Regions from separate parts of the Homo sapiens genome. Here region 2 is linked to region 1. Evidence: fine-mapped expression QTL. A gene starts in region 1. The other region holds a variant in brackets. All regions are shown on one strand. Distances are from middle to middle. Region 1 holds the start of LINC02211 (long intergenic non-protein coding RNA 2211). Region 2 overlaps LINC02228 (long intergenic non-protein coding RNA 2228).

Region 1 (15,930 bases):
TCTTCCTCTCCGTGGGTCACACCAGTTGCCTAGTCAGTTCTGATGAGAGAACCTGGATACCTCAGTTGCCAGTGCAGGATTCACATGTATTATGTTTATTTTTGATGGGAGCCTCTGATTCCTGCTGCTTCTACTGGACCATCTTGTCCCCGCCCAACCTCACTGATGTATAATTATTTTTAATTATTTTTCTTTAATTTTAAGTGCTGGAAATCTGAACTATTTGTATTTAGTTTATAATTAAAATAGTTTGTAACAATTAAACTTACATGATGTTTTGGCTTTTCCCATGTTAATCATAGTTTAAATATTGTATGACAACATTTTATTTTTAATACAAGCCTATTTAGTTAAATTAAATTTATTCAGAATATTCTGTTTTGTATTTATCCATTGTATAGTTCTAGAAACTAAGGGAAGGAAAACCTAAAAATTTTGTCTAAAAGCTCACATTTCTTAGCTCCTAATATGCTAAATGAATTTACAGTTGATAATTATAGTTTAAGTGTAAAAAAACTAGTAAAATATTATAAATAACTTACATTTAAAGTTCAAACATTTTCTATTTTCTATTAGAATATTTTAAAATACAAACTTAGATTTTAATGTACCTTATGTCATATTTTTACAACATCTATGTTTAACGTATACTCTAAGGTATACTTAGATTAGGGTTATAATCTACTAATTTTTTCATAGATGTCCTTTTCAAACAATCATGTTCTATTTACCTAATGTGTATTCAGATTATACTATACCTTTTATTCTTTTTTTTTTCTTTTTTTTTGAGACGGAGTCTTGCTCTGTCACCCAGGTTGGAGTGCAGTGGCGCAATCTTGGCTCACTGCAAGCTCTGCCTCCCAGGTTCACACCATTCTCCTGCCTCAGCCTCCCGAGTAGCTGGGACTACAGGTGCCCGCCACCACACCCGGCTAATTTTTTGTATTTTTAGTAGAGATGGAGTTTCACTGCGTTAGCCAGGATGGTCTCGATCTCCTGACCTCGTGACCCACCTGCCTCGGCCTCCCAAAGTGCCTATATCTTTTATTCTGAGTGATTCATATAGCTATTACTATTTATTTGTTTGATTGTTTGTACATTATTTTCACTATCGATGCACTTTCAAACCTCCTTGATGTTGACATTCAGAAGGTTGACTTCTAGGCACTGCTTCCACCGAGGTGCCTTGACCTCTCGTTGTGGCTTTTCTAAGCCAAGGCGAGATAGGAGTAGAGAAAAGTAGGGTACATGCTACCCTGGTTCCTCTCCTTGGTAGGCCATGGTTTGCTAGTGCCTGCTTGGTAAATCTTATGCCATAGTGACTATTTTTTACTGTTTGCTGTAGCTTCTGCCCTAGCATAATGTGGACAACTTCATTCTACATTTACCCTTCAGTCTTAAGGGTAATAAAATTTTCCTTTCTATTAGTCTTAATTCTATTTTTTTAAAACTTCTCATGTCTAGTATAGAATGCTTTCATTATACTGTCTTCAACTATCCCCTTTTTCAATATGCCACCTGTTTCTTGCTGGGATGCTGACATTTTCAAGTTATCTAATTTTGGAAAAAGTTAAGTTCAAGAAGTATAGTAATATTGTAGCATCTAATGCCATCTTAGATCAGCTGGCAATTTAGAAGTAAGTAAATAGTACTTTGAAAATGATTAAAGACATATATATTGAAGTGTTGGAAAAAATGAGCATATTAATGAAAGTCTATACAGGAAATTAAAATGAAAATAAAATACCTTAGAGGATTCCAATAAAATAATGTGTATTTGTCTTTAGAAACACAGGTGAATGATACCAATAGATTTTTTTTTTAAATGATAAAAATCATTTTTTATGATTTTTTAATGATTTTTTATGATATCAAAGTCTAATATCAAAAATGATATTAGATATCATTCTTGGTATCTAATGATACCAATATATTTTTCAAAAAAAATAAAAAAATGATGAGGTTTTTTTTTTTTCTTATATCTGACTCCATTTTCAAATAATGGTAACATGGTACCATTTCTTTTCTTTAAATTTTATTTTGTTGTGTCAAGAACACTTACCATGAGGTCTACCCACTTAACAATTTTTAAAGTCTACAATACTGTACTGTTGACTACAGGTACAGTGTTGTAGGGCAGCTCTCTAGAATTCATTCATCTTATTTAACTGAAAGTTTATGCCTTTGATTAGTAGCTCCCCATTTCTTCATCCACCCAGTCCCTGGCAACCAACATCCCACTCTCTGATTCTATGAATTTGACTACTTTGGATACTTATTTATATAAGTGGAATTGTATAGTATTTGTCCTTCTGTGATTGGCTTATTTCACATTTTTTCATAACATCCTCAAGGTTCATCCATGTTGTTCCATATTACAAAATCTCCTTCTTCTGAAAGGTGAATAATATTCTGTCATATGTGTGTATATACCACATTTCTTACCATTTTATATAAGGTAAGGTATTTAAGTTGTTTCTACATCTTGGGTATTGTGAACAGTCCTGAGGTTTTGTCATATGTAGCTTTTATTTTGATGAGGTACATTCATTATATGATTTATGGTTGAGGGTTTCTTTATCCTAAAAGTGTTTTGAGTTTTGTCAAATGCCTTTTCTGCATCTGTTTAGATGACCATATGGTTCTGTCAATGAGGTAGATTACATTTATAGATTTGCATAGGTTGAACCATTTTTGCATTCCAGCATTAAATGCCACTTAATCATGATATGACCCTTTTAATGTGCTGGTAAATTCAGATTGCTAGTATTTTGTTGAGAATTTTTACACCTATGTTTATCAGGGGAATTGGTCTCCAATTTTATTTTCTTCTAATGTCTTAGGCTTTGGTATCAGGGGAATGCAGAACTTATAAATGAGTATGGAAAAATTTCCTCTTCTTAAATTCTTTTAAAGAGTTTGAGAAGGATTTGCATTCTTTCTTCTTTAAAGGTTTGATAGAATTTAACCATGAAACTATTAGGTCCTAGGCTTTGCTTAGATGTAGGATTTTTGTTACTGATTCACTCTCCCTACTTGTTGTTGGTCTGTTCAGATTTTCTTCATTATTCAGGTTGTATGCTTCTAGGAACTTATTCAATTCTTTTAAGTTATCCAATTTGATGACATGTAATTGTTTATAGTAGTCTCTTATTTTCTGCATTTCTGTGGTGATATGGTTTGGCTGTGTCCCCACCCAAATCTCATCTTTAATTCCTGCGTATTGTGTGAGGGACCCAGTGGGAGGTAATTGAATCATGCAGGCAAGTCTTCCCCATGCTGTTCTCAAGATAGTAAGTCTCTCACAAGATCTGATGGTTTTATAAAGAGAAGTTTCCCTGAACAAGTTATCTCTCTCTTTTTGCCTGCAGCCATCCATGTTAGATCTGACTTGCTCCTCCTTGCCTTCCACCATGATTGTGAGGCCTCACAGCCATGTGGAACTGTAAGTCCATTAAACCTCTTTTTCTTCCCAGTCTTATCAGCAGCATAAAAATGGACTAATACATGTGGATTCAGGCATAGTGTTTCCTCTTTATTTTCTGATTTTATTCATTTGAGACTTCTCTTTTTTTATTAGCCTAGCTAAACTTTTGTCAAATCTTTTTTATATTTTTAAATAACGATTTCTTTATTGATTTGATTTTTTTCTATTGTTTTTCTAGTCTCTATTCCATTTACCATCTAGTCTCCATTTCTTAGGTTTTTCTAGACTCTACATTTTTTATTCCTGCTCTGATCTTTGTTATTTTTTTTCTTCTACTAACATTGGGCTTTGTTTATTCTTCTTTCTCTAGTTTCTTGAGATGTAATGTTAGGTTATATACTTGAGATGTTTCTCTTTTTTAATGTTAGTGTGTATCGCTATAAAGTTCACATAGAAAAATGGAACAAAATGGAGACCCCAGAAATAAACCCACACACATATGGTTAATAATTAATTTTTACAAATGAATCAGGAATACACAATGGGGAAATGATAGACTGTCCAATAAGTAGGTTGGCAAAACTGGATATCCACATTCAAAAAAAATGAAATTGAATGCTTCTCTTACACTATACTTGAAAATTAATTTAAAATGGATTAAAGACTTAAATATAAAACCTGAAAACATAATACTGCTAGATGAAAATGTAGGGGATAATCTCCTTTACATTGGCCTCAGCAATAATATTTTAGATTTGACCTCAAAAACACAGCCAATAAAAGCAAAAATTAAACAAGTGGACTACATCAAACTAAAAAACATTTTGCATATAAGAGACAACAATCGACAAAATGAATAGACAACCTATGAAATGGGAATGGGAAAAATATTTGTAAATCATATGTCCAGCAAGTAATTTAATATCTAAAATTAAACAGGGGCAAAAAGTCTTAATAGACGTTGTCCCAAAGACATACAAATGTCCATCAGGTATATGAAATGATGTTCAACTTCACTAATCACCAGGGAAATGCGAACTAACACCAAAATGAAATACTACCTTGCACCTGCTAGAATGGCTAATCAAAACCTAAAAGATAAATGTTGCTGAGAATGGAAAGAAAAGGGAAGTCTTTTACAGGCAGACTGTAGATTGGTACCGCCATTATGGAAAACAGTATGGATATTCCTCAAAAGGTTAAAAATAGATTTTCTGTTTGATGCCGTAATCTTACTTCTAGCTGTGTATGCAAAGGAAATAAAACCACAATCTTGCAGAGACACGTGAATTCCCCTGGGAGCATTATTCAATTAGCCAAGCTGTAGAAACAATGTAAATATCTATCAACAGATGAGTTGACAAAGAAAACATTGGTATACTTCCACCATGAAACATTATTGAGCCATAAAAAAGAAGAAAACCCCACCATTTGCAAGAACACGGCTGAAATTCGAGGGGATTATGCCAAGTGAAGTGAGCCAGACACAGAAAGATAAATAGCGCATAATCTCACTTATGTGTGGAATCTTAAAAAAGAAATTGGACTCATAATAATGAAGAATAGAATGGCATTTACCATGGAAATGGAGGGCTTGGGGGAAAGCGGAGACATTGGACAAAGGGTACAAATCTTCAGCTACAACCTAAATAACTACTGGAGACCTACTGTCAGCCTGGCGATTACAGTTAATAATAACATATTGCATGTTTGTAATTTGCTAAGAGCAGATCTGAAGTGTTCTCATGGCACATACAAAAAGGTAATTATGTGAGGCGATGGATGTGTTTATTAGATTATGCTAATCACTTCACAACTTATACATATATTAAAATGGCAAGTCATACACCCCAAATGTATTCAATTGTCATCTGATTTCTTAAGAAAATTATAAAATTATATAACTATATAAAAGATGGCAATAGAAAAAATAGTTATGCTTGGTACATTCTTTCCTAAAGGCCTTAGTGTATGACTTTCAAAGATTACGTAAGTTTTGTTTTTGTTTTGTAATAGTTAATAAGAAAAGAGGGGATGTAGAAGATTTCTCAAGTTAATTTCAAGAAAAGTAATTTCTTTATACCTGAAAGTGCAATATATTTGATTATCCAACTTGTAAACACAATTTTAAGATATATTTACTTTCAAAAGTAAAAGTAAAAAATGCCTCTAAAGTCTAATTTTAAATTAAAATTTAGTCAAAATAGTTTTGATTATATTTTTTCCAACTGTGCTAGGTAAAGTATATGAGGATGATGCAAAGGGGAAAAAAACACATAAGCATCCAGAGCAATCTCAAACACAGGGAGCTCAGGAAAACAAACCATGCATTTAAAATATTCAGAATGCTTTGCAGTGTTTATTTATCGTAGGAGCCACAGCTCTTCAAATCTAATGATGAATCAGGTGACCAACCACCAGGAACACTAATCTTTAATCAACCCATATTTGAAGCATGAAATTCCCACCCTAGGAAGATGATTAGTTAATTTAATGGCTGTAGAATTGTCAAATAGGAAATGTGTATAGAAGAGTAATTTAGAATGTTGCTGTCTGTTATTACTCTTACAATTTGAAGAGTAAAATGTCTCTTTATCTGGAACTTACATGATGATTTTTCCAACAAAATAATTTCCAAATAGATCACATAGAAAATGTCTCTTTTAATATACTTTACAGTAGTAAAACTATAACATCTCAATTGTTTTTTTTAAATAAATTTGAATAATGGTTTAGGTCATTTGATAAATATCACCTTGTAACTAATAAGATGAAACAAGGCTAAATAGGACCAATTAAGCACGTGATTTAAATATCGATATGTAGTGAGTAAAAGAGTAATCCAACTACCAGTAGAAGATTACTACATTTAGTACTATAACAAGTATAACACTGTTCCTAAAAAAAAGTGCTTTCTTATGTTTAAGATTTATTTTAATGTCAAACACAAATAATTAGATCTTTAAATGAACAATTTGGGAGTTAAATCCATTGCTTCTGATTTTTATAGATTTTATGGTCTAGGAAATCTATACTGTCTGATTTGATCCCATTTAACTGTAAGATTTTTACACATGTTGCACTCTACTAGCTGGCAGGAAAATTATTTTAATCGACTGAATGAAAGTATTATTTCATGTAAAAGTTTATTATATCAAGGAAATGATTTAGGTCAGAAGCTAGAATCTATATAAAGTCAGCTTTTGAAAATAAAGACAGACAAATCTTTTTTTACATTATTATAAAAGAGCTAAGTTGCAAACAACTATCCTTGAGACCAGACCATTTTTTTTTAAGCTGAAATTTTCTAATAATTGCAATGGCAAAACACCATTTGCAATTTCTTCCCTCCCACCTCCCAGGTGGTTCAACAATTCCACTTCCAAACAGCATTTCCCATCAGTTTTTAAAAGCTACTTACAAAGTGTTATTCTACTACCACTTTTAAATACATCAAGCACTTCCAAATATCTAGAAAGACTAGATATTTCATATAACTTGTCCACCACATACACATCACTGTTAAATAAAATTGCACACACATAACAATGGTTATCATCTGAGGTATCTTCTAAATGTGGCCATTTTGGCCTTGAATCATTCCCTCCTCCCTTCCTTCTCTGCCTTCAATCCAGTGGACAAGTACAGGCACATGTAATGCTTAGAGATGGTCGAACAAATTCCTATGCAAAAGTCTTTACAGAAGACAAGTTTTCCTATGAATTTTAACACAAAGCGTACAAAATATGCTAATTTTACTACTTTGTCATACACTGGCAACCTCTTTAACAACTAGAGACTAGATGTTGAAAAATTAGGACTATTTGTCCATTATATATACTATATACAGAGCAAAACAAAATGCACAAAACGTATAGAAAAATGGTGTCTGAAAATGTCCAAGTATGAACACACTAGTATATTACCTCTTGCAATTTCTTCCCTCCTACCTCCTCTAAACCATTGAACAAGTATACACATTACTATACTGCTCACAAAGGTGGCTTCACAATTCAATTTCCAAAAGCATTTCCTATGAATTTTAGCAAAAAGATATTTACAAAGTGGTATTTTACTACCTATACATTTAACATACATCGGGCACTTCTAAACATCTAGATAGACTAGATGTTTCAAGTAAGGAGTTAATTTGTCTACTATGTATACAGCAGTCTTGAATAAACTGCAAACATGTAACAACAGTTATAATTTGAAAGAGTCTTCCAAATGTGAACATTCTGGCCTAGAACCCTTCCCATCGCCATCAACCCAGAAGACATCAAATTTTCAGAAGACAATCTTTCCTAGGACTTGTAAAACAAAATGTACAAAATATATTAGTTTACTAACTCTACTTTTGTCATACACTGGCAACCTCTTTAACATCCAGAAAGACTAGATGTTGTCAATTAGGACTCGTCTGTCCTTTATGTACATTATATACACAGATAAGTAAAACAAAATGCACAGACATACATCTTGCCTCGCTGTAAACAGGATGGCATAGAGCTCTCTGCACCTCCCCCTCCTCTCTCCTCCCCTGAACCACTGCACAAACACAATGAGTATTACTCAACAGGTGATTTGACCATTCCCCCCAAAAAATATTTCCTATGAATTGTAACAAAAAGGTATTTACAAAATGTGATTTTGCTACCTCTAATTTTAACATATCAGGCACTTCAGAACATCTAAAAAGAAGAGACATTTCAAAAAAGCTTAGCATTGTCAACTATATACACAGTAGTGAGGAATAAAATGCACACAAAACAATGGATAGAATATGAAAATGTCTTCTAAATATGACCAGTCTAGCATAGAACCTTCTTCTCTTCCTTCTCAGGTCTTCCAGCTCCATGTCATCTAACCCACTTAACAAACGTGAACGTATCGCTTCCAGAGGCCGTCTTAACAATTCCATTTCCAAAAGTCATCTCCAGAAGACATGTATTTTCTACGATTTCTTTTAAACAAATGAGAATTTACAAGATGTGTAACTTTCTAACTCTTTTATCATAACTCGACAACCTCTTTCCATCTAGAAGGGCTAGATGTGACAAATGTTTTCTATTAAAAGGTTGGGGTGGAGTTGAGAGCAGCTTTTTCATATTATATACACAGGCCTTCCATAAACGGCCAGTAAATCTTCCCAGAGGGTGGTGGGCATTTCCAACTGGCCAAACGTGGCCTGTCATTCTACCATTTCTCTCTTCCGACAGCAAAGTCTGGTAGAATGAAGACCAACCGCCCGATGGCCGCTAACCGTTCCACCCGTCGTTGTTCGGGACTTCGCTCACCTTTCAGGCCCCTTAAGGCCTTTGTCCGTTGTCGTCAGGACTAGGTAGGTCTCGCCCAATGGCGACAGAGTGGTCACCCGGGAACCGGATCTGCGCGGCTCCGTGGCCGAAAGAGGCGGCCAAGCCTGCTTGCGTCCCTAGGCCGCCTTCCGGGCCGTCCACGCCTTAATGGCCTCCGCCGCGCGGCGTTCGAGCGGCCGCCATACTTCCCGGCCCACCACGCCCGGCGCCGCCCAAAGGCGCTGCGTCCTGGCGGCTCTGCGGGGGTTTCGTCGAGGCCCAGCAGGCTTGGGTCGGGAGACCCGGGTGCCGGCGGGGGCCGGGCTGGGAGACGCCACGGCCGCCATCAGTCACCGAGGTGGGGTGGGAAAGAGAGGTTCGCTGCGGCTTCAAGGTCTGAGCACAGCCAGTGGGCAGCCACAGCAGAGGCCTCCGGTGTCTGCAGGGCAGAGGGCTCGGCCTGTCCCGAGGCCCCCCAGTTCATCCGCCGGCCCGGGGCCAGAGGGCCCTGAAGGCGCGGGCTGCGTTCTGCGTCTCTCCGCGATCTCTGCCGGACCGGAACTAAGACCAGACCATTTTCTTCTGGAGTAAGTGTGACATAAAACTAATGTTACTAATTTTGTGGCTTTATATTTTGGCATTTAATCCTTTGCAAAATTTTAAACCATTGTGGAAACTGTGCAATAAATCTGGTCAACTTAAACTACTGAACTATTTCAATACATTATAATTAATGTCCGTAAAAATCTTCAATCATTTGGAGGTGGTAGTTTTTATTTGATACGGATAAGGGTATACTTTTAAAGAGTCTATTCTTTTTTTGATTAATTATTGCTAACTAATAAAATTGGAAGGTTTTGTTTTGTTTTCATTTGATTCCAGTTTCCTAACGTGATTTATTATGCTATTTATATAAGTGCAAACAATTATATGACAAGATTATATTTAGAATGCATGTATTAAAATATGAAAGTGATATTACTGAGTTTATTTGAAATGTCCCAACATATTGCCACTATTTATACTTCATACATGTTAAAATACCGACATTTTAAACTCATATTTTGAAAAGTTTCTTTCTTTTTTTTTTTTTTTGAGAGACAGCGTATCACTCTATCACCTAAGCTGGAGTGCAGTGCTGATCACAGTTCACTGCAGCCTTGACCTCCCTGGCTCAAGCAATTCTTACACCTCAGCCTCCTGAGTAGCTGGGGCTAGCAGTATGTGCCCATGCCTCGCTAATTTTTTTTTTTTTTTTTGTAGAGACGAGGTCTTGCTATGTTGCCTAGGATATTTAGAGGATATTTTTTGCTTTATAAAAGAAAGAGAAGGAGAAAAATAATTAGGCCCTCAACAACTTCTAAATTAAAATGAACACCTTACACCACTGAGAAACAAATGGGAAATCTTTGGCAGAGGATACATTATAATATTGAATTGAAATTAGAAATGAGTCATGTTTCTGTAACTATATGTTCAAGAGGTAAAAAATTAACATATTTTGTTTTACAAATTACTAATCAAAGTATTCAGCTTTGTAATATTAGAACAAACTATGTTGCTGAAATCCAATGTTCATAACATTAGGAAAACTGAGTTGCTTGTACTGTGTGTATCTGATTTAAAACTAACCTATTTTATTTGATTGTGGTGTGCAGGTATAATGTGACTAGTCTAATCACAATTTGGTTTTGCTTTTTTTTGCAATTGTATATAGATATTTACTTTAATATTTACTCTATCATTGAGTAGATTATTGGAGTATTTCTTCATACATTCCAAGCAATTGAACAATAAACAATTCTCAGAAAAAAAATGACTATTTTCAAGTGAGAGACTGATTTTTTTTCAATCTGTCACATGCAATCTTTGGGCTTCTTGTTTTTCTCCTACCACAATACCCACTTTTTTTATCCCAAACATTATTTGACTGACCAACTTTGTGAAGGGTAATTATTATGAGTGAGGTATTTAGAGTTCACTAGTTTAACTAGGAGGCTGGGGAGACATGGAGATGGGGTGACATGAGTGGTTGGAGCCAGATTGTGAAAACAGTGGCTCTCTCACTGAATTGTACCCCAAAGACAGATGTAGAAATATAACATACAACCCAGACTTTTTCTCACTGTCTATGGAGACACAACCAGTTAACTAGTAAGTTTACAAAGAGCAATGATGGGGTTTCTAACAACATTACCATTGTGAAATAAAGATAAACTAAAGCTGTAATGGGTAAATGAGCAGCAGTCTCATTAGTGGACTTACTAGCTTGACTATTGCGGTTTGCACAGCGAGCTGGTTTTGTCTGCATTTAGAAAAGATGAAGAAGTGGTCTTGTTTCATCTCCCTTCATCACAACCTCCATAAACCAGCTCTTAACAATTTGAACAGATTTTAAAATGTTGAGACATAATGATAACCTGTACATTCTAATTCCATTTGTTGCCAAAAAGAAGCATTTACTTACGCTCAGTTTTCCCCTCTCAGTTGAACTTTAGATAGTGTCCCTTGTTTGTTTGTGCTGATGTGTGTGTATGTGCTTGACACATGGGTTTTGTGAAGAATAATATTAGGTGTTGACTTGATTGGATTGTAGAGATCCAGAAGGCTGGTAATGCATTGTTTCTGGGTGTGTTTATGAGGATGTTGCCAAAGGAGACTGACATTTGAATTGGTGGACTGGGAGAGGAAGACCCAACTTCAATGTGGGTGGACAGCATCCAATCATCTGCCAGCCCTGCTAGAACAAGCAGGTGGAGAGAGGTGGGATCACTTTGCTTCACTAAGTCTTCTGGCTGTCTCTTTCTTCTTTCTGTGCCTGATGTTTGCTTCTGCTTCTCTTGACCTTGGACATCAGACTCCAGGTTCTTCGGCCTTTGGACTCTGGGAAGCACCAGTGGTTTCCCCAGGGCTCCCTGGTCTTCCACCGCAGACTGAAGGCTGAAATGTCAGTTTCCCTAGTTTTTAGGCTTTCAGACTTGGTCTGAGACACTACTACTGGCTTTTCTGTTTCCTCAGCTTGCAGATGGCCTACTGTGAGACTTTGCCTTGTAATCATGTGAGACAATTCTCCCTAATAAACCATCTTTTGTATATACATATTTTCTATTGGTTCTGTCCCTCTGGAGAACCTCAACAAAAACAGGTGTGTGTGTGTGTGTGTGTGTTGTGAATCTTTTTCTAACAATTTGCCATTATCTTTTGGTTTCCCCTTCTCCACTTGAGTTTTGGCCTCCAGGATGAACTACAGGCTAAATGTGTAGATGCCTCCTTTTTCCATTGGGTCACTTACATCTTTCCTATGAGTGGGTTCTACAGGAATCCTAAAGAAGCTTCCATACTTTCTAGTTCCCTGACTGGAGAGATGCCTTCTGGGACAGCTTTTCCAAACTGCCTCTCAGCTGCCCTGGTAGGTTGTCCAGTCCTATTGCTTCGTGTTGCTGAATACCTCTCTCTAGCAATCAACTTTTGTAGCAACGTGGCACAAACTCAAGTATACTCAAGGCTCATGGAGGACTCACAGCTTTGCCCCAAATACTGACAGTACATGTTTCTCCCCTACTTCAACTCTCTGTTGCAATGCTGTAATGCTTGCCAACCCCATTCCCTTTTTAAAAAAATCTTATCAAAAAGAAATAAACTGGTTATGCTGACATTCAGCATTCATCCTAGGTGTGATTACCATGAAAACAGTTCACTTGGTTTTTATGGATGGTCAAAGCCACCACATGGTAGAAAAGACAGGGGAAGGAACACATTCTTTTCTTGGCATACTAACAATTCTCTCCATTTTATTTCTGACATTTTTCTTTCTCTTTAATACACATTGTGTACATTTATTTATATTAATCTCTTTCTATATTTATCTATATATAAACCTATATCTATATATCTATTTTAGATGTTAATATAAATGTAGATAGATATGTTACATATGATACATATATCTATATAGATATGATGTGTCATATATATCTCTATATATTTGCAGTATATAAACATAAATAGACATTGATATAAGTATATAGATATAGATGTATATATTATATATGCTATATTTATATATATGAAAATGAGAGAAATGAGAAATATGCTACAAGTTGAATATCCTGTATATGAAATTCTTACGGTCAGCAGTGTTTTGAATTTCAGATGTTTTTGTTTTGAAATACTTTCATTATACTTACTGATTATCCTTATTCCAAATTTCCAAAATCCAAAATTCTCCAGTGCGCATTTCTTTGATTGTGACATTTGTGTTCAAAAAGGTTTAGATTTGGCCAGGCGCGGTGGCTCACGCCTGTAATCCCAGCACTTTGGGAGGCCGAGGCAGGTGGATCACGATGTCAGGAGATCGAGACCATCCTAGCTAACACGGTGAAACCCCGTCTCTACTAAAAATACAAAAAAATTAGCCAGGCATGGTGGCAGGCCCCTGTAGTCCCAGCTACTTGGGAGGCTGAGGCAGGAGAGTGGCGTGAAGTTGGGAGGCAGAACTTACAGTGAGCTGAGATCATGCCACTGCACTCCAGCCTGGGCAACAGACCAAGACTCCGTCTCAAAAAAAAAAAAAAAAAATTTAGATTTGGAGCACTATGAATGTTTGGATTTGGGATGCTCAACCTGTATTTTGTGATAGTGATTGTTATTGCTCTTAGTAAGTCCTGCAGGGATGAGTCTTATACTTCCTCCTCTTCTATCTTTAGAAGGTGAAGCTACTTAAAATTTATTATTCTTAGTTTTAGTACTTTATTCACTATTCTAGAAAAAGAGGTACAATTCTACTTAGTAGGTAATGTTACTATTTTCCCAGTCAAGGAGTTTCAAATGTTTCTATGTCATTCCCTCATGATGGCATTATCTGAACTATAATTGAATCTTCTTTTTTCCCTTAATATAAGCTTCTATCTATACCCTACTCATCATATTTCTTAAAGTGATTGTCTCTTCCCTGCATTATTGTAGTTTTTATTATTTTTCCCACATCTAGTAGCACTCAGTTTGTGAACATTGGTTCATTATATTTTCAAAAATTACACCTCTGTTTGTATTACAGTCACATGCTGCAAAACAATGTTTCAGTGGATATCAGACTGAATATAAATTGTGGTCCCCTAAGATTAAAGTAGACTTTTATTATATAGGTGTATATATAGGTGTACTATTTTTAATCCTTTATAGCATCTTTTACTGTATTTTTATATGTTTAGATACACAGATATTATTGTGTTACAATTACCTACAGTGTTCAGTACAGTAATATGCTGTACAGGATTATAGCCTAGGAGCAATAGGTTTTACTATCTTGCCTAAGTGTGTAGTAGGTTGTACCATCTAAGTTTGTGTAAGCACGCTCTAAGGAGTTCACACAATGACAAAATTGCCTAACCAGTAATAAAATGATGCATGACTGTATATTTATCTCCATAATAATGAAAGACATTTTACTTGCATTCAAAATGAATTATAAATTGGTACACCCTCCCACGATCCAAAGTCAAACCACTCTTCTTCCTAGAATGCAAACATAAAATTCATTCCTAAACATGCTCCTGCTTTCTAATCTGATACACTTTTGCTATTTATTTGTTATTTTTATTATTTCCTCTGCCCGTGTCCACTTCGTATTTTGTTTTCTATTAATACATTATCCACCATTCCAAATCCATCACAAATTTCACATCCTACAGCTTTGAAATGATCTCACATTTCCCCTTAAATATGGCAGTTAGTGCCTCTAATAGGACATTATGTTACGCCATACAGAATCATTATGTTTGTCCCTCTTTTATTTCTCAACTAGAGTACAGGTTTTTTTTAGAAACATTCAGTGTTATGTCTCTAGGCTTGTCCAGACACTAACCTTTATTTTCATAAACTATCAAAGAATAATTTAAATTAATGAAAACTGGAACTGTATTTTCTTTACGTATGTGAAATGCTAAAGAATATGTATTTCCATTTTGACGAACAGTTGTCTCCCTTCCAATTTGGGATGGTTTCTCTAAAATTATTTTTATCATTTATAAGTATATTATTGCATATTGATATGTCACATCTAAGAGAAGGAAGTTAGAAAGTTGCTGTCAGCAGAAGCTTGTCCAACTTTTAATTATCTTCTCCTAGTTACAGATAGAAATGCTAAACGGTTAACAATTTGTGAAAAAGACTATATCAGCAGCAATGTTAGTTTTTCATATCATGTCCTAAGAAAGGTTTTAATTTTGGAAAACAAAAGAGTAAATTAATTTTCCAAATAAAATTAAAATAATATTCAGAAACCAAAACAAGTGTTAGTTAACACTTTGGGAATAATATTCCCTTCACATGCATTTTATATAATTATACATGAATATGATATAATATGGCAGATATATCTATCAAATAAGTTATTATAGCTTTTTTCTATTGTGCAAATCAGCATGATGAACATAGATATGCTCCAGTGGAAATAAATATACAAACCTTAGTAATGTGAGATGTGTGGAATGTGAGAGAGAGAGAGAGAGAGACTGGAGCATAGACGGTTACAAATTATCTGGAGAAAACATCCTAGGGCCTTTACTGGGGTCTCATTTGTTTGTTTGATTGATTTTTAAGTGATCATTTTTAATCGAAAAAATTATATATATTTATTATGTGAAGCATGATGTTTTGAAACATGTATGCCTTATAAATGATTAAATTCAACTAATTAACATATACACTACATTACATACTTAACAGTTTTTGTGGTGTCAACACTTAAGATCTCTCTTAATGATTTTCAAGATTACAATACACTGTTATTTACTATATTCACCATGTTGTACAATAGATTTCTTGAACTTATTCTTTTGTGTAACTGAAATATTGTATTCTTTGACCAACATCTCCCCAGTTTCCCACCTATAGCCCCAGGTAACCACCATTCTACTCCGCTTCTATGAGTTTGACTTTTCAGATTCCACATATCAGTGAGATCATACAGTATTTCTATTTCTGTTCCTGCCTTATTTCATTTAGTGTAATGTCCCCAGATCCATGTATGTTATTGCAAATGACAGGATTTCCTTCTTTTGCTTTTTTAAGACTGAAGAGCATTTCATTGTGCATGTATATTACATTTTCTTTCTTTGTATGTATGTATGTATGTATGTATGTATGTATGTATGTATTTCAGAGGGAGTCTCACTCTGTCACCCAGGCTGGAGTGCAGTGGTGCAG
Region 2 (15,930 bases), 33 kb before region 1:
ATACTAATACCTAATATAAGTATATGAAAAAACACTCAACATCACTAATCATCAGAGAAATTTAAATCAGAACCACAATGTGATATGATGTTGCCTGTCTTAAAATGTACCATATCAAAAACACAGACAATAACTGATGTAGGTTAGGATATGGAGAAAGGGAAACCATCTTACATTATTGGTGCGAATGTATTTTAGTACCACCATTATGGAGAACAATATAGATGTTCTTCAAAAAACTGAAAATAGAACTACCATATAATCCAGCAATTCCACTAGTGAGTATATAGTCAAAAGAAAAGAAATCAGTATATTAAAGAGATAGCTGCACTCCCATGTTTATTGCAGCACTATTCACAATAGCCAAGATAGGGAATCAACCAAAGTGTCCATCAATGGATGAATGGATAAAGAAAATGTAGTACATAAAGACAATGGAATATTATTTAGCCATGAAAAAATAAAATTCTATGATTTGCAACAAAATGGATGAAATTGAAGGCCACTATGCTATGTTAAGAGAAGTAAGCTAAGCATAGAAAGACAAATATTGTGTACTATCACTCATATGTCAGATCTAAAAAAGTGGACCTCATGAAGCTAGAGAGTAGAATGATGGTTACGAGTCTAAGAAGGCTAAGGAGAAAGGGAAATTGAGGGAAAAAAGAATATAAATGTATTTGTTACCACTGAAGTATACACATGAAGTGGTAAAGATGGAAAATTTTATATTATATGCATATCTTACTTCAATCAATGAATACAATTAAAAATATATACACTTTAAATAAATAAAAATAACTGTAAAAATGTTTACATAAATAAATAATAAATAGAGCACATGAATATTAGAAATATTGAAATTTGCCCTTGAACCAAAGAGGCTAAATCTGAAAATTAAAAGTAAACAAAGAAATAACTATTTTTGAAACTAAAAAATTCCATCACACACAGACATATGCACAAAATAATTTTAATATTTTTGTTAAAAATAATTAAAAGATAAAATTTAAGATTTAAAAACATTACAATTTAAAATCACTAGCTACATAGCCATGTATTAAGGCTAAATCTTCACTCAGAAAAAAATATATAGCCATAATATCTAAAATTTCTAAATACACCAAAATGGGAAAACATATATGAAATTTTTTCCAAAATAGTTAAAAATTATAAACAATTACATCATAAAGAATAATCTATGGATGAATAAAAATAAAATTAGAAATGAATGAAATGTTAAAAGTCCATTACTAAGTAAATGCTCAATAACTAAACTGCTAAATAAATGCCAAAATCTAACCATCTGAAAACCTAAATTTTTGTCTCCTCCACAAAAAAATGCAGTAATACAAAATGAAGTGAAATAAAAACACAAATAGAATTAATTATAAATGAAATTAAATTAATTATAATTGAAAGCAAAGAAAAATCAGAAACACCTAGAAAAAAGTAAAATAAATGAGCCGCTTACACACTTTAAAAATAGTGTTCATAAAACAAATGAAATTAATGTTTTCAAATAAAAATATATAGTATCAAAATATACTGAAAGGCAATAAGAAAGCTATGTATATTGATTAAAGACACTGAAAATATCCTGAGGAGTTTTATTATATTCACTTTTACCACCTACCATTTCAGGCAATAAGATATTTTTGCATTACCTTTTCCAAAGCCATGGTTCTGTTACTAAAAGTGTGACAAAAACAAACAAACAACAACAAATAAAACAAAAACCAAGAAAGTGCTGATAAGTGTTACAAAATTATATTAATGAAGAAATCATTTTAAAATATTTTCACAATGACACTCTTATAGACTCAACACTAGTACATAATTCTCAGGTTGTCTTCACTTTGATTATGACATATTGTCATTAGTAATTGTGGTGATATAATGCACCATAGCATTCATTTAAAAGAAAAATGTATAGTTGTCTTATTAGTTGTACATATATTTTTGATAAAGTATGTTGATCAAATTCAAACTAAGACTAAAATACTCAAACAAAAATTACATACTTTTAGTAAACGAGAGATGGACTTATAATTAATTGCTCTCTGGATTGCAACTGCCATGCAAAAATGTTACTTTTTGTATCTCCTCACATCTCTAAGACTGCCCTGGGATCAGCCCCAGCTACATTGCACAACTTCCTGTGAGCTCAATCATTTTGACACTACTTTACTTCTACTTCTTACCATCAATTTCTTGCTTTTTTTTTTTTTTTAATCTCACAGTCTTTTCCAAAGTCTAGGGAGCCTACTTGATCAACACTGAAGCATAAGAAAGTTAAGTTTTCCAGGGAAATCCTCAACTAACAGAGGATAGGAGCCAGTGGATGTAGGTCCAGGACTTGTCCTAAGGATGGGCAATTTTTAAGGTCATTCTTTATGCTTCCATAGTTTTACAAGAATTGAGCTATTCTTTCCAAAGCCAAAAAAAAAAAAAATCCCCAAGATACAACCTAATATTAGCTTTGTATTATGCCTTTTCTCAGTCTTTCTATTTCCTCATTCCTATATGGATCACCTTCCAAATTCAAACAAATAGGTGATGTGGGACTGAGATATGCACCCAAGTCATTGTCTCATAAATTACTGTCGGGAACCCAAGCTAAAATAAGTGGCAATAAACTAGTTTTAGGAAAGAGACCATCATTATGGAATTCTGGAACTGGACCTTACTGGCTAGATGACAACAGGTTCCTATTATTGTTAATAAGTGAGTAGTGACGCCTCTTCTGTTATGCTATTATTTCAACATTACAAAGACTTTAAATTTTAGTCCATCGAATCACATATGGAAGAAAAGTTTTGGGTTGTCCAGAAACTCTAACAGTTTAACAATTTTAGAGCAATGGGAATTATAAATATTGTAGAATTAGATAATTTTTGTCAACTTACCTTAAAAGCCTTGAAAAAAGCAAGTGGCAGATTCATGTCAGCCAACTATTATCTCAAAGTTGCCAGTGAAATCCAGAATCCCTCCATGACAGTTTACAGAGTCCCTCGTCTTTTACAATCACAAGGCAGATTATTAAAAACCAGACACACAACTTAATTTTAAGGCCTGCAGAGTTGCCAAAGGAAGTGTATGCCAAGCTCAACGTGACTCCTATGTTAAAATCAGGGGCCTCCTAGGCAGGAGTAGTTCCCTTAGACATCTAATGGGGATGTTCTGAAGGGGTCACAAAAACCCCCTAATTCTAAAGTTCTCCTAAAACATCCAGATCAACAAAAGCAAACAAACAAAATCCTCTTCTTATAGGAGAACAGTAGCCACTCATTGTCTGGAGACATTAGAAATGCTAATCTGGGCAGAAGTTCCTGAAGATGATGCTTGTCCTCCTCTTACCCTGTTCCTATCTCTCTTAAGACTTCCAGACCAATCACTAGAGTCAGATTACTCCCTGAAGATTTGTAAGTCCTGGCAAACACATATTAGCAGAAGAGGGAAAGTGTGTGGGAGCGAATTTTGAGAATTTTTGACCAGAAGTGGGAGTTGTGGCTGAGATAATCATTTTCCTGTGAATCCAAACTTAAGGTTCAGACAAGAACACCAGGAGAGGAATTTTTTAAATGTTGCTGCTGAGATGGCTTTTAGTAGATGAGTTGGAGATGCTGTCCTCATTTCACAAAGGCTATTAGCATGCACTATCGATTAGGACATCCAACGTCTCAGTGACTGTTGTCATGATTTGGCCAGAGTTGTTAGTAGGAAAAGGTGCCATGAAACTAGTCTGCCAAATGCTAATGAGACAATATTATTCTCAAATATCTCAGATTAGGTGGTGACATCTATTCATTAGAAATAATGTGGGTATGGTAACTGAATTTAGCAGCAATGCCAGAGGGACAAGCAGGATGTCTTTTATGTGAGAGTCTCTTATGATATATAACAGACTGTGATTTTCCTAGGGGTGAAATGGATAGGCAATCAGGGTGTTTCTGGTTTTGCAATTAGAATAAATCCTGAACTAGCAAGCAGAAGACTGGCATTAGCTACTGTGATGAAAACCCACAATTTCTCACCCACCTACCCAGTCTGAGCTGGTTCTCAGAACCAGAGCCCATCTGTTGAAGTGGAGTCATAACAAACTTGAGGAAGGACTCTACAATGACAGTATAAGTATCAATAACAAATATTAAGAACCTACAGCCATGTACCATAGTGAATGTATACAAAGAAAAGAACACTATCCAGAACTTTTAAGAGCTGTTGGACTTGAAGTCTGAGGTTATATTGATACAAGCATACCAAAATTCCCTCTTCAATTAGATTGAGTGCTCATGAAGAACAAGTACTTAACAGACACATGATTGAAATCAGATTCCAGTCCACAGTTATCTCCCCAGATGCTGAGTGCACAGTTGAGATGGATAGACTTAGTTACTCAAAGAACCTGCACATTGGTTACCTGATTTCTGTAGTAATATGTAATCATAGGATTCATTATGTATTGCACGTTAAGTATGATCAAATATAAATCCTTGAAGCTTCCCCAACACTTTCCTAGCCAGGGCAATAAATCAGAAACAATATTTAATATCAGAATTAAATTACAGAGATTCATACTACCTTCAAACAATTAAAGAATTGGTGGTGGTAGTTATTCTCTTTATTCCCCTGTTTAATTTAACTGTAAGGGTCGCTGCAAAAAAATAAAGAGCTGGTAGATGACAGTGGACTGCTGTAAACTTAACCAAGGGTGAATCTAATTTACTCTTATACTAGATTTGGGATTTTTATTGGAACAGATCAATTTTAGTACTTTATATGTGGCAATAGTCTGGAAAATATGTTCTTTTGTCCTTCTTGATCTTAGTAGATTTTTAAAAACATTTTATGTGTATGTGGAAAGACAGTATTAGCAGGAGCACAGGAAAAGTGTGCAAACACACATCTTCTCCTAGGTCTTAGGTATATGTCAATTCCTCTGCACTCCAACAGAGTATAGTCCACAAAGGACTTGATCAACTTTCCATTCTGGGAAATGCTATGATAATCCAATAAATTGATGGCATTGTGCTAACTGAACCTAGTGAATAGAAAGTGGCAAGTGCCCTGAATGTCTTAGCAAGCTACAACAATAACATAGATGAGAGCAAAACTTCAGGGTCCAACAGTCTCTGGCATTCTGGGGCATCCATTCTAAGGTAAAGTTTATATTATACACTTTGCATAACCTACTACTAGGAAATAGATACAAGATTTTGTAAATATATTTAGCTGTTGGAAACAGCATCTGTAGCTTTTGGGAATGTTGCTTAAACTTTTATATTAGGGCCAGGCGTGGTGGCTCACGCCTGTAATCCCAGCACTTTGGGAGGCCAAGGCGGGAGAATCACGAGGTCAGGAGATCGAGACCATCCTGGCTAACATGGTGAAATCCCGTCTCTACTAAAAAATACAAAAAATTAGACGGGTGTGGTGGCAGCTGCCTGTAGTCCCAGCTACTTGAGAGGTTGAGGCAGGAGACTGGCGTGAACCCGGGAGGCGGAGCTTGCAGTGAGCCGAGATTGTGCCACTGCACTCCAGCCTGGGCGACAGAGCAAGACTCTGTCAAAAAAAACAAAACAAAAAAACAAAAAAAGCAAAACAAAACAAAATAATAACTTCTATATTAGATTACTTGGAAGAAAATATTTTTTAAGTGGGTCATTTGGAAGAAGAGGGCTTTGCAGCAGGTTTAGGTTACAGTGAAAATGGCCCTTCCCCTTAGGATATAGTATGGTGCTAGAGGTACACATGGTGGCCAAGACCCTGTGAGAAACCCCCTGTAGAAGAGTTGCAGCAGAAACCACTGGGGTTCATTATCAAGGCCATGTTCTCTGCAGCAGATAATGCCTTGCTATTTGAAATGCTGCTTCTGATGTGCTACAAGACCTTAGAAGAGACTGAGTGCTGGATCTTAGAATATCAAGAGATTATGAGACAAAGGCTTCCATCATGCACCAAGAATCAGTCTATCCCATAATAAAATAATGCATTTTGGATCTTCTCAAAGTATATCCAGAGGCACTCATGATCTAGACCCTCATGTCACCAGCCATTGTTTCTTTGTAATCCCTTCCTCTGATCACACCATGACCTCATGGAGAATTCATTTTGATCAACTAATGAAGAAGGAAAAGTTTTGTACCTGGTTTGTGGATGGATTAATTGAATATAATAGTGCTAGATGATAAATGGACCATTAGCACACACAATCATAATGAGAATTAGCCTTAAAGGACTTTGGTGAAAGGGTAATCCTCCTCGTGGGCCAAGCTATGAGCATCACATTTGGATTTCCATTTATGTGGTAGAAAATCTATTGGAATTACAATGTGTTTAAATGCTTGGATATAGGTGAATGGCTGACCTGATTGCACATAGACCTGGATGGAGTAAGACAGAAAGATCAGATGTACAAAGAAGGGACATGTGGATGGACCTAGAAAAATAGAAATAAATTATGCACATCTTTGGTTTTCTTTTGCTTCAATGCTTGCCTGAGATCATGCATAACATTGTCCACTGGACAACTGAAGCTATGTGCCCAACCTGTAAGCAGTAGAGACTGGGATTAAGCCTTTGATAACGTTCCATTCATTACATTAGAGCAAGCAACCACTTAGAATAAGTCAGTTACTGGACATTTTCAATTCTAGAAGTGGGTCATAATTCATCTTTGCTGAACAAACTCTTATTTTAAAATGTATTTATATTTTTTGTTCACAATGCCTTGGCTAATACTATGATTTGGGGGCCTACAGAAAGCCTAATTACTGAAAGCATAAGTTAATTATGTAATGTCCTGCATAATATCACTTGAGGCCAAGTAATGCATTTTTATGGTAGAAGAGGTAAAACAATAAGCATAGAATGATGGGGGTCTTCAGTTCCAACCATATATTATATTTATCAGCAACACCCAGCCTAATAAGATAATGAAATGGTATACTAAAGTTTCAGCAGGGATGTCAGCTCAGGGAAGGTACACTGCAGTGGGTGCCAGTCTCTAGGATGCAAAATATACTGTATACAAGGGTAGTTAGTTTGAGAAACCAAAAAAGTAAAAGTAGGAATGACCAATTTTTGTATTAGTTTTCTTATGCCAGTAGACCTGAATAAGATGAATGAATTACTACATTGGAAGACAAAATTATGCATCATTATTTTGAAATACTAAGATGAACAATTTTCTCTAATTATAATTCTATAGAATCAAGGCAGGTCATTATCTCTAGATCTCAGGGGATCGACTGATGTGTCCCTGGCAGTGAGATTGAATAAGCAATTATTGCATCAAAAATAGACTAGGACTAAGCAAACATGCTTGGTTTATTTCACAAGAGGGAAAATCTAGAATAGCTGCTACAGTGGCCAAGTTCGTGGAAGAGATGGAAACACAGTAAAGAAAAGGAGATGAACAGGATATCAATTTCTGCCTTTGGGCCACTTATAACAGCAGATACTGTGGTTTATTTCTTTAACATTTTGATATTTTCAGAGCTTAGATCTAGCCACCAGTTTCAAAATATGTGACAGAGAAGAATTTACTGTGTAATAGCATAATCAAATGAATTTACTGTGTAATAGCGTAATCAACCTCCGAGAGCCCTCACACTTGATACTCAATATTACATCACATTGGCCCTTTTCAATTTCAGCCACAATGGAAGTGGATAGCTACTGGGGAACTCAAACTCCTGTTATTATCTAAAGACCAAAACAAATGTTTCCCTGCTTTTTGTACTCAGGACCTTTCCCAAAGCTGAGAATAGTCTGCATAAATACAGTCTATAAATATAGTAAAGTTAATGACCCCAAAGGTAACCCTCAAATAATGAAAGATGGAAGTCAGTGGATAAAAACTCCAGCCTCCGCCTTTGGATTCCTAGCAGAATTATGCTCTCATTGCCTACAACCAGTGACCTGGATTACATAGCCTTATATCAGTTTTTCATTCTTACTTATCTAATGCTCTTCTCTGTCACTCCTCCTTCAGAGTATTTACTAAATTATCTGCAACTAAGTTCTTGTCTCAGGTTCTGCTTTTAAAGAAATATAAACTAAGATATCTGTGTTGTATACTGAAAATCTTTTCTAAACCAAGAAGAGTAACTAACATGTAGCAGCTTTCATGCAAATTTTATTGAACAAATAAGCTATATTATTTAATACCAAAGCTAGAATTGTACATAATGGCCAAACACTAAAAGGGTTTCAATTTATTTCACAAATATCTTAAAGGATTAATTACATTAGTAAAAGACAGAATTTTTTATTTAATTTTGGAAAGTCTGTCAAATATCAAAGATTTAAAACACTTGACGTCACAGGTCATTGTAAAATAAGTTATTCATTTGACCAAATAAATAACTCAAGGATTTTTTCAAAAAG[G/A]CAAAAACTTTCTTTCTTTGAGAGAGTAGACTTAATTTTCTAAATAATGAAACCTAATAAAAACAGCATGAAGCCAATTAAATTTGTTTTTTGAAATTTTATAAACAATCTGTAAGATTTTAATCTCGACCATAGGGTATAACCTCCATAAACCTTTTATAACCTTTATAATCTTTATTAAAAAGTCAGTGTTTTGGTTTTTTTTAGTTATACTTTAAGTTCTGAGGTACATGTGGAGAACAAGCAGGTTTGTTACATAGGTATACATGTGCCATGGTGGTTTCCTGTACCCATCAACCCGTCATCTACATCAGGTATTTCTCCTAATGCTATCCCTCCCCCAGAACCACACCCCCCCAACGGGCCCTGGTGTGTGATGTTCCCCTCCCTGTGTCCATGTCTTCTCATTGTTCAGCTCACACTTACGAGTGAGAATATGTGATGTTTGGTTTTCTGTTATTGTGTTAATTTGCTGAGAATGATGGTTTCCTTGCAAAGCACATTGACTCATCCTTTCTATGGCTGCATAGTATTCCATGGTGTATATGTGCCACATTTTCTTTATCCAGTCTATCATTGATGGGCATTTGGATTGGTTCCAAGTCTTTGCTATTGTGAACAGTGCCACAATAAATATACGTGTGCATGTGCCATTATAGTAGAATAAACGGTGTTGGGAAAATTGGCTAGCCATATGCAGAAAACTGAAACTGGATCCCTTCCTTACACCTTATACAAAAAGTAACTCAAGATGGATTAAAGACTTAAATGTAATACCTAAAACCATAAAAACCCTAGAAGAAAACCTAGGCAATACCATTCGGGACATAAACATGGGCAAAGACTTCATGACTAAAACACCAGAAGCAATGGCAACAAAAGCAAAAATTGACAAATGGGATCTAATTAAACTAAAGAGCTTCTGCACAGCAAAAGACACTATCATCAGCATGAACAGGCAACCTACAGAATGGAAGAAAATTTTTGCAATCTATCCATCTGACAAAGGGCTAATAGTTACAGTTTGAAGAAAACCTTGTTAATTTGAGATAAGAGTCCATATGCTCGTCTTGCATCAGTGTCCTTTGACATTAATGACTACTTTATACAGAAACTGAACTTATTTTAATCTCAAGATCAGCCCTTAAAATCTCACATGCCCACTTTTTCTGTGAGAGTCCCTGGATCTTGAGTTGTTGAATTGCTTTATTTTTGGCCCTGCGTCTCAAGAATGCAGTTTATTTTGATAGGCATCTTCTACTGGGTCTGAAGATGAGGCTTTAACTGCTCTCAGTATTTACAGTTTAGCAGGACTTGGAGTCCTTTTTAGACCCAGGAGTCAAAGCCCTGTAACTCAATGTCACAAAAACTTTAAAAGCACATGTAGAAAGACACACAGATTTAATAACCTTAATTAAAGATAAAAATTTTATCAAAGTTTTTTTTCCTAAGCAAACCAAAACTTTATAATGGCATAGGAATTGCTTTTGATAAAATGAAATATCTTTTAGGCCAGTTACTGAAAGGCAGAAATAAAAACCATGTGCACTGAACAGAATATTATGTTGAAGAAAACATTTCCTTTGGGCATTTAAGAAAGCATTGTTAGCATCAGACCACAACAAACAGAAATTGAGGAAAAAAGACTTATACGAGCTGAAAATGAGTTGAAGGAGAACATTATCATTTTGCGCCTTTTAAAAGGGGAGAAAAACCTGAAAGTGGCAAGATGCAATAAAAGTTAAACTTGGGTAAAAAAAATTAAAATCTCCTATGATTTATTAAGAGTAAATCAATTCCTTAAGAAAATTTCACTGTTGGTTTCTTTTTTTTTTAATAAATCCTCTTATTGTGACTTATGACTTATAAAGACCCTTCATGACATGCTTGAAATTTTTATTTGTCCTGAACATAACCTCTTGTTTAAACAACCATTTTATTCTAGGAATAAATCTACCATATAATATTGTTTCTCATATAAAATTATTTCTCTTTAACCTTTCTTACCAAAAAAATCACTATTTTTATAATTTTCTTTACATCTCTCTTATTTTCTGGTTTCTTTTACCTAGTTTTTACCTAGCTTTAAATAAGCTTTGAAATAGAAAAAAATGGTTCATCTTTTAAAAAAAGACATGTTTTTTAGAAATAATGTTTTCTAAATATATATTTATAGATATATTTTTATAATATATAAAATAATTTGGATATTTATAATATATAATATATTTTTATAGTATATAGGGTATTATTTTATTGGAAAATATCCATATAATGAAATACCTATTATTAAATTTAATACAACTTTAGATTCTAAATTATGACATTTTCTACATGTATTTATCCTGTTACGTTTACCTAATTATTTTATTTTAATCATTTACCTACATAATTTGTGAAAACTGTGATACTCATTATTTAAAGTTATAGAACTGCCATTGTGAAATTTTAACTGAGACAGTGAAAAAGATATGACCTAACTGACTCCATCTTGCTTCTAACCTCAAGGCTGTTCTTGTTCATTCCTGGGCCTAGGCTGATCTAACTTTGGGAGGAAATTAATTTATACTTTAGCTTTGAAACAAAGACACTAACAGTTCCTTCTCAAAACAAACCTTACAGCCTGTGGACTAGATTGCCTAAAGCCACAAGATTAGAAGTTATGGTAATCTTACTAAATTCAAGATGTAGCTATTGTTATAAAACCAATGTTATTGTTAATAAATCAATGTCTTATTTATTAAAGATTACACAAGCAAAGATCATTCTGCTTTGGGCTGGGATTATACTTTTGCAAACCCTATGCCAAATTTTGACACATTATATTATTTGGCAAGAATAAGTATTAAATTGCTTGATTAAATGTAAACAACAATGTCTGCTGGCAATTTTTAAGAGATTTCTAACATTACTTAACCAATAATTTTAAATCTAGATTATTTATTAAAGATTTTGCTTAAGTTATGTTAACTTGAAAAAGCAGTTGAGTAGTCTTTTCCCTTTTCCTGATAAAGTATTTGATTCAAGTGCTTTTATTTTCTTAAGCCAATTAATTAGAGTTCCTTTTTTCCAGTAGTGAAATGTTGTGTAAACAACACATAAATACATAAATGTATTAGGCATGCTGATAGAAATACATCTTATAGATTCATGATAAACTTTTTTTTGTTAAACTTTCAGTCTTGATAACCTGTTTTACTACCATAGGTAGTTGTTAGCTAAATAGCCTTAAATTTGCATATTAAAGAAAATAACTCAGGTGAAAATCCAAGAGCAAAATTTACATCATAAGATACAGTGAGAAAAATTCTGATATGCTAGAGGGAAATTAAAATGGGTTTAATTGCCAATTGAACATAAAATTACAGAAATTATGAACACATACACACACACACACACACACACACACACACACACACACAGATCCTAAATCTTTTACTCCATAACTTTAGCCATGAGATAAATACAAATTCACTGGCTTGCAAGAATAACCTTTTGAATCCAAATAGTGGTTTTTATCTTAATAGAAAACAGCAGATTTAAAGCAGGCAGAAAAGAAAAATAGAGAAAAAGAGAACTTAGGAAGTCTGTAGTTTGCAGGTCGACCTCAGGGCTCTTTTACTTTAATGTAAGTGTACTCAAAGACCATATTACTTTCATTTTACATAAACCCTGGCAAGTGGAAGTGCCATAAAACCTATGGAGTGCTTGAAAGGGGGTCATTCTCCTTGTTTTCTCCTCATTCTTAGATTGTTTTCCACTCTTTTTCTTAAAAGGAGGAACTGAGCTGTGGCCTAGCGTTTTTGTGTGGTGGATCAATGTGTGCTGCTTGTGGGCAGGACTCCACAGTGTATCAACACTGAGTCATTTCCACACTCTTATGTGTCTCAGTTTCTCTCTCCAGAGGTCTGTGACCTCAGAGAAGACTCAAAATGGCAGGTGATCAGCCCTTATATGCATTTCCTGGACAAGTGGGGGGTTTTGTTATTGTTATTTTGAATTAATTTTTGTTGGGGATTTCCCTGCGGGGCTGCTGCACGCTGTGGGGGTTCAAAACCCCAGAGACTCCCACGAGGCCCCCAGTCACCCAGGGGTGCCTTTTGGTGGGAGGAACAAATGCCCTTTCTCTTTGGAGCTGAGAAAACTCAATCTCTCATTTAGCTTTGAAAACAGCAGTTCAGCTCCTCACACCAATGCACATAGACAAGCCGAATTGAGAGTAATTTGGGAGAAAAAGCGTTAGAGAAGTCTCCTTAGAATGTATCTCCAGACTAGAATTAGAATCCTTAGACAACAACTTCCTGGGAGAGAGAAAAAGACAACAGCCAAGACCACTTTATTTAAACTCCTGCTCAGCCACCCCTACTTTGTAGCTCTCATCTGCCATTACACATGCCAAGGTCAAATCCTCTCACAGTACAAGGTAATCTCTGTGATCCCCAAAGCCAAAGAGGCCAAGTCATGCAATACAGGAAAACAGAGCTTTAGACCTAAGAAGAAGCTGCCCATGACTCTTGAAACTCCACCAAGAAAACAGAATACCCCAAAACAGGTGAATTCTTTAAAGTGGTTCAAGTCATTATATGACTCCTTTAGATTTTTTGGTACTACAGATGGCAAAGGGGGCAGGAGGTACAGGGTGGAAGAAAAGTAAATGAAAGAACTTTTGTTTTTTAAAAAAACAAGACGAAAACTCGTAAACTAAGTGCATGTTTTTCCTCCTTTGCAGTTGCGAGGAATTTTGTCCAAATTAGAGAGGCTTTGTTACCCAGAACTTGGAATTCTCACACAGATTTGACCAAGTCAGGTAAAATTGGTCAAATCTGATGGGTGAAAATCCAGAACAAACAACAACAATAAAAACCCCACAATATGATCACTGGGTGCTCTAATGGTAAGTAGAAATTAAGACCAGCTGGTTATTAAACTTTAGCCAAGACAAAACCCCAATTCAGGTACTTACCTAGGGATGGGTCTCAGGCTGAAGACTGCTTTCTACCATTCTAGAAGCAGGGAAAAAAAAAAAGAGAGATCTCAAACTCATCTTCCCTGCTGAAAGGGAGCTCAAACTCCATAAAGAAGTTACCTGCCTTTCATTGTGATGGATACAGGAAGTCTCTCCTTCCTTGTTGGGAGCAAGTAAAACTCCAAAAAAGAAGGGAGGTGTACAGCAAAATAAACTTTAGATCTTGACCAAATTTTTGGAGATCAGAGATTCTCTGGAGGGGATGCTCACAGACCTCTGCAAATTCTCCCACTGGTTTGAGCCATACCAGTGAGAGGAGGTACCAGCTGGGCTTCCTGGGTCGAGTAGGGGCTCAGAAAGCTGTGAAACTTACTCATTTCCTGCATCAGGACTTACTTCAGTCCTGGATGAATAATATTGAAGATATATGCTTAAAATATTCCTAACACCAGGACTTGTGCATGTGTTTTCTTCCTCAAGAAAGCTATAAACAGCTAAAAGCTTGCTATAAGTTTCCCTGTGTTCTCTCTCCCTTCCCCATCCCCTAAAACTAAAGGAAAAGAAATGTTAACTTCCCCTTTTTCTGTGACCAGCAGACCTTATCTATACTCCCCATTCCAATTCCTTGTAAACATACTTTGTAAAGTCCTGTAAGATCCTGTCTCCTTTGCCATGCTGCTACAACGTCATAAAGTAGATAAAACCTAAGTTGCAATTCTGGTTTTCCTCAAAATCTTAGACATGTCACAAAATAATTTACTGCCTTTGTTTCTCACTCTGGTAACATCTTCCTGCTGCACATATTTCCCTCCTTGAAGAGTTTAAAAGGCAATCACCCAAAACCAACACTGGCTACCCATTCAGGACCCCTTCCACGCTGTGGAAGCTTTGTACTTTCACTCTGCCTAATAAAGCCTACAGCTTTTTTCTATCATTCCGTGTCTCTATCACTCGCCGCAGACAGCTGCCACATCAATTCTTTGGCATGGCTTGGCAAGAACCTTAGGCGTTACACTGGTACCAAGCACTGATAGGAGATTTGTCAAAGGTCTGGGGCATCTCCACTCAGAATTCCTCTGGGGTTACCAAAATGTGAACCCCCAAAATCTGAGACAGGTCTCGGTTAATTTAGAAAGTTTATTTCGCCAATGTCCCAGACATGCGCCCATGACACAACCTCAGAAGGTCCTGATGCCATGTGCCCAAGGTGACCAGAGCACAGCTTGGTTTTACACATTTTAGGGAGACATGAGACATCAATTAATATGTGTAAGATGTACATTGGTTCAGTCTGGAAAGGTGGAACAACTTGAGGCAAAGGCGGGAAAACTGGAAGCTGAGAGGGAGCTTCCATGTCACAGGTAGATAAGAGACAAATGGTTGCGTTCTTTTGAGTTTCTGATTAGCCTCTCTAAATGAGGCAAACAGATATGCATTCATCTCTGTGAGCAGAGGGGTGACTTTGAATAGAATGGGAGGCAGATTTGCCTTAAGCAGTTTCCAGCTTGACTTTTCCCTTTAGCTTAGTGATCTTGGGGCCCCAAGATTTATTTCCTTTTCTCAATATACACTATATATACTTTTATCTATATTGCATTCATCATTGAACAATATATTTTGGAGTTAACTACTTAGTAAATTATGGAGTTTATTCCATTTTCCAGCAGTACAGCATACTTCTTGATTTTTCATTGTTTACTCAGTTTCCTAAGCAACATAATTCATCCAACCAGTCAACCTAAACAGCATTTAGGTTGTTTCTGGTCTTTTGCTATTTTAAATAATGCTGAAATCAATGTTCATAAGTCATTTTCTATTTTTTGTCAATTTAAATTTGAATAGATTCCCAGTATTCTGAAATAAGTTTGCTGGTTCAAAGGATAAAGGAATGTACAATTTTGATGAACATTGCCAAATCTCCCCTAAAGAGTGATATGCCAGTTTGCATTTCCATAGTGATATATAAATGTCCTTGTGATCTACAGCTTCGAACTTTAGATTTGTAAAAGCTTGAGAGATAATGAATGATATTTAAATGAAGTTTTATTTGCTTTTCTCTTATTATTATTGAAGTTGAACATATTATCATATGTGTAACAGCCACTGACATTTCTTTTTCTGGCATTCAATATTCATACTATTTGCTCTTTTATTATGATACATTGTTGATTTTTTCCTGATTAATTTTAGAAGCCCTTTATAAATTTAACAGTCATTTTGTTTCAAAGAAGTTGCAATTTTATTTTTCAGTTTGTCATTTGTCATTCTTATCTATGATGTTTTTGAGATGAAATGTTTATTATAATCAAATTTATATTTTCCATTACTGTGCTGAATTTTGAATACTTATTAAATTTTACTACTTGTGCATTTCTAAGAATTCACTCATTATTTACTAATTTTTATAGAAACTTCATAACCGAAATTTTATACATTTATTTATCTGCTTACAATATATGCTGATGTAGAGATGAGACATGGATCCAGTTTTTCCTTCTAGAACCACCTAGTTATCAAAACATCAATTATCTTTTCCTCACTGATTTGAGATGCCTTGTTAGTGTACACTG

What was found. PIP is the estimated chance that this variant, and not a neighbour inherited with it, causes the effect. A credible set is the group of variants that fine-mapping cannot tell apart.
Region 2: its variant is the best candidate, but not a certain one, in a credible set for the expression of LINC02211 in testis (GTEx, PIP 0.69).

Annotation. Positions count from the first base shown.
Region 1 is chr5:25,181,723-25,197,652 of GRCh38, forward strand. LINC02211 (long intergenic non-protein coding RNA 2211) reads left to right here and starts at 9,231. Exons shown (of 4, transcript NR_136209.1): 1 at 9,231-9,311. It overlaps LINC02228 (long intergenic non-protein coding RNA 2228), which reads right to left and starts at 8,934. Exons shown (of 5, transcript NR_147006.1): 1 at 8,725-8,934. RefSeq lists an enhancer at 8,938-9,437.
Region 2 is chr5:25,148,873-25,164,802 of GRCh38, forward strand. LINC02228 (long intergenic non-protein coding RNA 2228) reads right to left here. Exons shown (of 5, transcript NR_147006.1): 3 at 13,358-13,397. Among named protein-coding and RNA genes, the nearest start is that of LINC02228, 34 kb to the right of the region's middle. The variant G/A (reference allele first, on the strand shown) is at 8,395.